2 linked regions of the Homo sapiens genome follow. The protein of the gene in region 2 binds, or shares a complex with, the protein of the main gene of each other region. Each region holds a gene or a part of one and is shown on either strand. Other genes may lie near its edges. A codon is read from its position in the direction of its gene.

Region 1 (3,746 bases), on a different chromosome or scaffold from region 2:
ATAGCAGATGATTTAAACTCTTCATGAAGAGCAAGCACATAGATGGGAAACTAACAACAGTGTCTTAGGGCAGGGACTGCCTGAGTGCCAGGAAACCAGGTGGGGCTGTCAGCCTCACTGTGAGGCTGCCTGAGATGCTTTTTCACCACGCATCCTCAGCAACTTCGCTTCACTTTGTCCAAACTGTTGTGGCATCAAGAACTACAGGATACGGCCAGGTGGGGTGGCTCACACCTGTAATGCCATCACTTTGGGAGGCTGAGGCTGGTGGATCACTGAGGTCAGGAGTTCAAGACCAGCCTGGGCAACATGGCAAAATCCCCTCCCTACTAAAAATACAAAAATTAGTAGGACGTGGTGGCCCACACCTATAATCCCAGCTACTCGGGAGGCTGAGGCAAAGGAATCGCTTGAGCCCCAGAAGTGGAAGTTGCAATAAGCTGAGATCATGCCACTACACTCCAGCCTTGGTGACAAGAGCAGGACTGTCAGAAGGAAAAGGAAGAAAGAAAAGGAAGAGAACTACAGGATAAAAAATGTCCCTGTCCCAAGCATTAAACACAGGCCATTTATCCCAGATGCTGGTCATTCCCATCTATGTGCCCAACCCAACCTCTTCTCCAGGCTCTCCCTCAACTTCCTCACATCTTTCAAACATACCAAGAGACAGCTCCTGATTCTGACTCTCTGGAGTGCTGCCTACCTAGCCAAATGTTTGCAGCATCAACCACCGGTTACTCAAAACACTCCAACTCTCCTCCTTCTGTCACTCACGTTCAATCCATCAGCCAATGCTGTCAGCTCCCTGGTACTCCATCTCCAAGGCAGCACAATCCTCTCTTCCCTGAACTGCAGCAAAAGCTCCCAACTCTCTTGTTTCCTCTCCTGCCTTGCCTCGCCTCACCTCAAATCTACAGACACCCAGAAGAATCTTTAAAACTGTAAATGTGATCGTGTCACATAGCTACTTAAAACCTTCCACTGGCTTCCCACTAGATTTCTAAATGAAATTCAAATTATTCGTCACCCTACACGTCTTTGCTAGATCTGCCCCGACTAGCTCTCCAAAATCCCACCACAGGGGACTTCTTTCAGTTCCTGGAATGCAGCTGGCTAAGGGCTGCAAGGCCCTGGCACCAGCTGTTCCTTCTGCCCCAACTGCTCTTCCCTCTTCTCATAACAGTCTCCTTCATCCAGAACTCTGCTCAAATGGCACCCCCTCCTGCGAACCCCCTTACCTCTCTGCTTTACTAATTCTCTCCTCCTTCCCAGTCCCACTCTATTCAATTACCCCGCTTCAGGTTCTTCAGGTTGCCTGGGCAACCTGACAGTATGCTTTCCCCCCAAACGAAATTCAAAACCCGTAAAGGCGCAAACCCTTCCGGTTTACCGCCAAAACCCCAGTACCTAGAAAAGCTAATAGGTAGAAATCAGTTATCTGCTGAATGAAGGACGCTGAGGTGCCTCGAAGCGGCTGCAGCCCCCGACAGACCCAGCGCCGAGCTCTGCACGGGGGACACACACCGAAAGCGCCGACACAGCCAGGCGTGAGGGCGAGGACGGGGGTGGGGGTGGGGGTCGGACGTCACTGGCCCCCGAGCCTCGACCCTGACCACGACCTCCGGAGCGCAGGGCCGGCCCGGGAGTCACCAGTCTGGCCCTCAGCCCCCGGCTCGCCCCCGACTCGCCCCCGGCTGGCCCCCGCGGCCCGCGCCCGCTCACCGTAAGCGTAGATGCCCCGCAGCAGGTCCTCCCGCAGGCCCATGGTGTCGAACGTGGGGGTCACATCCACCTCCTCGCTGGTCTCGAATTCCACTTTAGTCATGTCTTCCTCTTTGAGCAGCCGCTTTCGCGCCGAGCCCGAGGTCGCCATCGTGGCCGTGGTCGCCATGATTCAGAGTCCGCGGAAGAGCACAGCGCGCGCCGCTGCCGACCTCGCTGCCGCTGCCGACCTCGCTGTGCCGCTGCCGACCTCGCTGCCGCTGCCGACCTCGCTGTGCCGCTGCCGACCTCGCTGTGCCGCTGCCGACCTCGCTGTGCCGCTGCCGACCTCGCTGTGCCGCTGCCGAGAACAGACGCCTTAAGTATGCGAAAGCGAGAGACGTGCGTGCGTACGTGCGTACGTGCGTACGCGCGACGCGGCCACGCCTCTGGGGGACGGGGCACTCTTCGTCACGTGAAAGGGAACTGGGCGTTTGCCGCAGGGAAAAGTAAGGTGTTTCTGCTCTCGCGCCATATGCAGTTCCCGCGGGATCTCGTTGAGGGCGGGGCACCCAGTTCCTTACGAAAGGGATGGAGGGGGTGGTACTTCTAAAGTTGGCGGTGTTTCGTACCGGCCGCGGGATTTCGCGGACTGGGGCGCTGAGGTTCTTTGAGCGGCGTGTGGACCTGAATTCCCTGGAAACAGGCTGGGGCCGCGAGGGGCCTCCGCTCCGGGCGGGGTCCCCAGATAGCCCCGCCTCGAATAAAAATGACGAGCACGGGTCCTCTCTCGGGCCCGCAGTGGGTGGACTGCGTCGCAGACCCGTAGTGGAGGCGCCCAGCTCGCCGGGGAGATTCGAGTGGAAACCCTCACGGCCGCCGGTGGTGGGCCCCGGCGCGGCGCTGGGCTCCGGCGGGTCTGCGCTGGGGAGGGCCAGGGCCCCTGAAGCCGGCGTCCCTCTTAGGGGACGCGCCTGGGTGTGTCTTCACCGTTTGCCTGGTGAGTTGGAGACAGGGTCTCGCTCCGTCGCCCAGGCTGGAGTGCAGTGGTAGGATCAGGGTTCATTGTAGCCTCCGCCTCAGCCTCTGGAGTAGCTGGGACCTCAGGCGCGCGCCACCACGCCCGGCTAATTTTTTAAATTTTTTTGTAGAGACGGGGTTGGGGGAGGCGGGGGTTAGGGTTGTCCTGGCTGGTCTTGAACTGCGGGGCCTCAGGTGATCCGCCTGCCTTGGCCTCCCAAAGTGCTGGGATTACAGGCATGAGCCACTGTGCCCGGCAAGCAGCTGTTATAAATAAAATACATGCTGAGCCTGCAATTTGCTCTTAATGAAGGCCACTTGTCAGTAGACGGTGCTGCTAATGCGTGTCCTGCAGCAAAGATAACCCAGACGGGATCATTTTTTAATTGCCCAGCAGAACTTTAACCAGTTGTGCATCTTAACCTGCTTTTTGTTTGTTCGTTTGTTTGTTTTGAGACAGTCTGGCCCTGTCGCCCAGGCTGGAGTGCCATGGCGCGATCTCGGTTCACTGCAGCCTCCACCTCCCGAGCACAGGCGATCCTCCCGCCTCAGCCTCCAGAGCACCTGGGACCACAGGTGTCCACGCGCAGCCACTAACCGCTTTCTTATCTGACACTTTAAGTGCTTCTTCGTACCCAGCTCCTCTAACGCCTTTTGAAGCAGCTCCATCATCTTTGAAGGGCAGTTCATGCTGTTGAGAATCATGTTTTTAACTTTGGGAAAATTGTATTTCCACGAGCGCCAGCTCTGTCCTTTTTTTTTTTTTTTTTTTTTTTTTTTTTTGACGGAGTCTTGCTCGGTTCGCCCAGGCTGGAGTGCAGTGTCGCGATCTCAGCTCACTGCAAGTTCTGTCGCCCAGGTTCACGCCATTCTCCTGCCTCAGCCTCCCAAATAGCTGGGACTACAGACACGCGCCACCACGCCCAGCTAATTTTCTGTATTTTTAGTATAGACCGGGTTTCACCATGTTGGCCAGGATGGTCTTGATCTCTTGACCTCATGATCCGCCCACCTCGGCTTCCCAA
Region 2 (3,746 bases):
TTTTCTTTTAGAAACTTATAGTAGTTTCACAGTTTCAGGTCTAATGTTTAAGTCTTTAATCTGTTTTGCGTTGATGTTTGTATATGCTGTGGGACTAAGGTCTATTTTCATTCTTCTGCATCTGGGTATTCTGTTTTCTTGGCACCATTTATTGAAGACACTGTCTTTTCCCTATTGTGTCTTCTTAGCATCTTTGTCGAAAATCAGTTGACTGCCAATGTCTGGATTTATCTCTGGTTTCTTTGTTCTCTGTAGCTCTATGTGTCTGTTTTTATACTATTGTCATTCTGTTTTGATTACTATAACTTTGTAGCAGATTCCAGGTCAGGGAGTGTGATGCCTCCAGCTTTGTTCTTTTTGTTCAAGATTGCTGTGGCTATTTGGAGTTTTTTGTGGTTCCATGTGAGTTTTAGGATTGTTTTTTCTATTTCTGTGAAAAACGTAACTGGAATTTTGATAGGGATTGAGTCCAGTCTGTATGTTGCTTTGGGTACTGTGGACATTTTAACATATTATTTCAGTCCATGGACATGGGATGTCATGCATGTTCTTCCATTTTTTCATCAGCAATTTGTAGTTTTTAGTGTACAGCTCTTTCATCTCCATGGTTAGATTTATTCCTAACTTTTTTTTTCATAGCTATTGTAAATGGGATGTTTTCTTGATTTTTCAGAAAGATAGTTCATTGTAAGCATATGGAAGCACTACTGATTTTTGTATGTTGATTTTGTGTCTGCAGCTTTACTAAATTAGTTTATTAGTTCTAACAATTTTTTGGTTAAGTCTTTAGGGTTTTCTATATTAAGATCCTGTTTACAGCAAACAGGCTTCTCTATTTTTGATTTGGATACCTTTTATTTCTTTCTCTTGCCTAATGGCTCTGGCTAGGACTTCTAGTACTATGTTGAATAGAATTGGAAAGAGTAGGCACCCTTTTCTTATTCCTGATCCTAGAGGAAAAGCTTTCAGCTTGTCACCGTTGAGTATATTAGCTATGGGTTCGTCATATATGGCCTTTATTCCAATTTAATTTCTAGTGAGAGTGAAATGGGAATGTGAGAGAAATGGGAAAGATGAGCAATACATTTTAGAAAAGCAGAAGGGAATCACCGTATTCTATAAGAATATGTGGCTTTAAGCAATTGGTGATATTTAAAAGGGTCAGAAAATAGAATTACTCCATGTTGTATTTATTATTTTAAAATCTGAGGGCTGTTTTCTCATGTCATTTTACATGACTATGATTCATCTTTAAAAAAATATGGAATGTAGTGGCCAGGCACGGTCGCTGTAATCCTAGCCTGTAATCCTAGCACTTTGGGAGCCTGAGGCAAGAGGACCACTTGAGTCCAGGAGTTGCCTGGGCAACATTGTGAAAACCTGTCTCTATGAAAAATACAAAAATTAGCTGGGCGTGGTGGCACACAGTAGTCCCAGCTCCTCCGGAGGCTGAGGTGGGAGGATTGCTTGAGCCCAGGAGGCAGAGCTTCCAGTGAGCCAAGATCGCCCCACTGCACTCCTGCCTGGGTGACAGAGTGAGACCCTGTCTCTCCCCAACCTCTCCAAAAAAGGTGGGGGTATAAAGTAGGAGCAGCAAGTTTTAGAGGTAGAGAAAGTTGATCAAGAGACAGCCATTATCCTCAAAAGTGGGCAGAGATCTCTCCAATTTACTTAGAAAAAAAGTAGACTTAGAAGAGTTATGGATTGCTAAAGATACTATAATTTATAAGCTGCATCCTTTTTCTTATTTTCCACTCTAGTGATTCAGTTGTCATATCTAAAACTACCATTAAGACTTTTTTTCCTGACTTTTGGCAATCCAATAATTACTTGTCATTACATTGCTAAAAGTAACTTTAGTTTGCCCAATTTGCCTTTCCCCTTCCTCATCAAATGCATATAGAAACATGACCATTTTCAAAATGAGTTACAAGTAGGTACCTTTTAATTTCCTGTTACTGTTTTAGCATTAATCTGGCATTGCTTTTAATTCGTTTCTTTATTTCTCACAGGAGTATTCCACATCTTCATTTTATTCTACTAAAATTAGACTTAAAGATTTAAACCCAAATTTGTCTTTAATCACAAAATTAATTTTATAAAAATGACAGATCTGTAGTAGAAACTTTATGTTATCTACCTTTTATACTTTTGAAGCAGGTCTGCTTTTGTTTACTTTTTAAAAAATGTTAAAGAAATTATTTATATGAACCTTTTTAAGGTTCAAATTCATGATTAGATATAACAGACTGGGAAAAGAGGAATTATATGTAGAGAGAAAAATTTTGGTGATAAATTGCAGTAAAATCTTCATTCTATTTTACAAAATCACAAATTCACATTTCGTTTTCTGAAAAACAATTTTTATTTATTAGTAAGACAAACTCTTTCCAGTTAGTTCTGATTTAGATTTTATGATTACTTATAGAGAAATATTACTGAATTTTAATAGTTTTTGTTTCGTTTAATTAATTTGGTGATTATTGTTGACTCCTTTTTAAATTCTTTTTTAAACAGAGGACTGCTGTCCAGGTCTGTTTTGCAAGCACAGAGTGCTTCTCCAATCTTCACCCATGTTTATGCAGCATTAGTGGCAATTATCAACTCAAAATTTCCACAAATTGGAGAATTAATCCTCAAAAGGTTAATTCTTAATTTTCGAAAAGGCTATCGAAGAAATGACAAGGTATATATGAATGGCTTGTAAGTAGAATGATACATAGGAACAAACTAACAAACCAGTATCAACAAAAGTAAGCAAGGTTGATTTTGACACAGCTACATAACATAATGCTTTTTAAAAACTGTCTTTCATGAGAACTTCTTTGATCTGTTAAATATCCCTGGCCACTATTGATGAGCCACAAAAATGATGGCTATAACTGTAGAACTATAACTATTTAACCAGAAGGGATACTCTTTCATGTGTTTTATTTTGTAACTTTCTTATAATGTAAAAATTATACTTGTGTGGTACATGTTTTAAATAGATGATGTTAGTAGGCCATAGATTATGTAAATAAATGAAAATTGGGTTTAGTTTATAGGTTAACTTTCCACCTTTATTTTTCAGCAACTTTGCCTGACTGCTTCAAAATTTGTGGCGCATCTTATTAACCAAAATGTGGTAAGTAATTATCTTCAATACTTGGTCCCATTCAGTGGCATTAGACCAGAGGGTTGATGCCACTTCACTGATACCTCTCTATTTTTGCTTTGCTTTATAGTCCTTGGGATAAAAATGTTGGATGATATTTTCATTTTAAAACTATAATAAATATATTTAATGTTCTTTTTTTTTTTCTTTTTTTGAGATGGAGTCTCACTCTGTCGCCCAGGCTGGAGTGCAGTGGCACAATCTTGGCTCACTGCAAGCTCTGCCTCCTGGGTTCACACCATTCTCCTGCCTCAGCCTCCCGAGTAGCTGGGACTACGGGCACCTGCCACCACGCCCGGCTAGTTTTTTTTGTATTTTTAGTAGAGACGGGGTTTCACCATGTTAGCCAGGATGGTCTCGATCTCCTGAACTCGTGATCCACCAGCCTCGGCCTCCCAAAGTGTTGAGATTACAGGTGTGAGCCACCACGCCTGGCCATATTTAATATTCTTTAATATAACACTTTGATGCTGATCAAAACACTTTAGATATTTATCAAATTAATCTGACTTAATACTGTACATGGTTACTTGACTGCAAACCATTCCTTTGAAGAACCATTCCCTTCATTTTTATAAAACAATAAAGT

Evidence for each region. The genes of interacting proteins can lie anywhere in the genome.
Region 1: the proteins of CWC22 (region 2) and EIF4A3 are in contact, whole or in part, in a crystal structure (PDB 4C9B), measured with the Homo sapiens proteins. Residues at the interface, in NP_001362958.1 of Homo sapiens: Thr129, Gly130, Gly131, Ala132, Tyr133, Pro135, Pro136, Ala137, Lys138, Arg140, Lys164, Asn167, Gly168, Ile170, Asn171, Lys172, Val173, Asn174, Ser176, Asn177, Ile180, Ile181, Glu184, Ala207, Ser208, Ile210, Phe211, Tyr215, Lys330, Arg331; in NP_055555.1 of Homo sapiens: Met43 (codon at 1,765), Gly44 (codon at 1,762), Ile72, Ile73, Lys74, Gly75, Gln98, Cys99, Met183, Gln213, Val256, Ala257, Glu259, Trp263, Asp266, Thr267, Asp270, Leu271, Tyr272, Asp273, Thr274, Leu275, Thr276, Ile277, Thr278, Gln279, Ala300, Asn301, Phe302, Thr303.

What each region holds. Positions count from the first base shown.
Region 1 is NC_000017.11:80,145,071-80,148,816, forward strand, and holds the start of EIF4A3 (eukaryotic initiation factor 4A-III), read right to left. Parts: upstream 2,059-3,746; 5' UTR 1,892-2,058; coding exon 1,723-1,891; intron 1-1,722. UniProt on the Homo sapiens protein: ATP-dependent RNA helicase. Involved in pre-mRNA splicing as component of the spliceosome. Core component of the splicing-dependent multiprotein exon junction complex (EJC) deposited at splice junctions on mRNAs.
Region 2 is NC_000002.12:179,972,574-179,976,319, reverse strand, and holds part of CWC22 (pre-mRNA-splicing factor CWC22 homolog), read left to right. Parts: intron 1-2,517; coding exon 2,518-2,686; intron 2,687-3,073; coding exon 3,074-3,127; intron 3,128-3,746. UniProt on the Homo sapiens protein: Required for pre-mRNA splicing as component of the spliceosome. As a component of the minor spliceosome, involved in the splicing of U12-type introns in pre-mRNAs. Promotes exon-junction complex (EJC) assembly.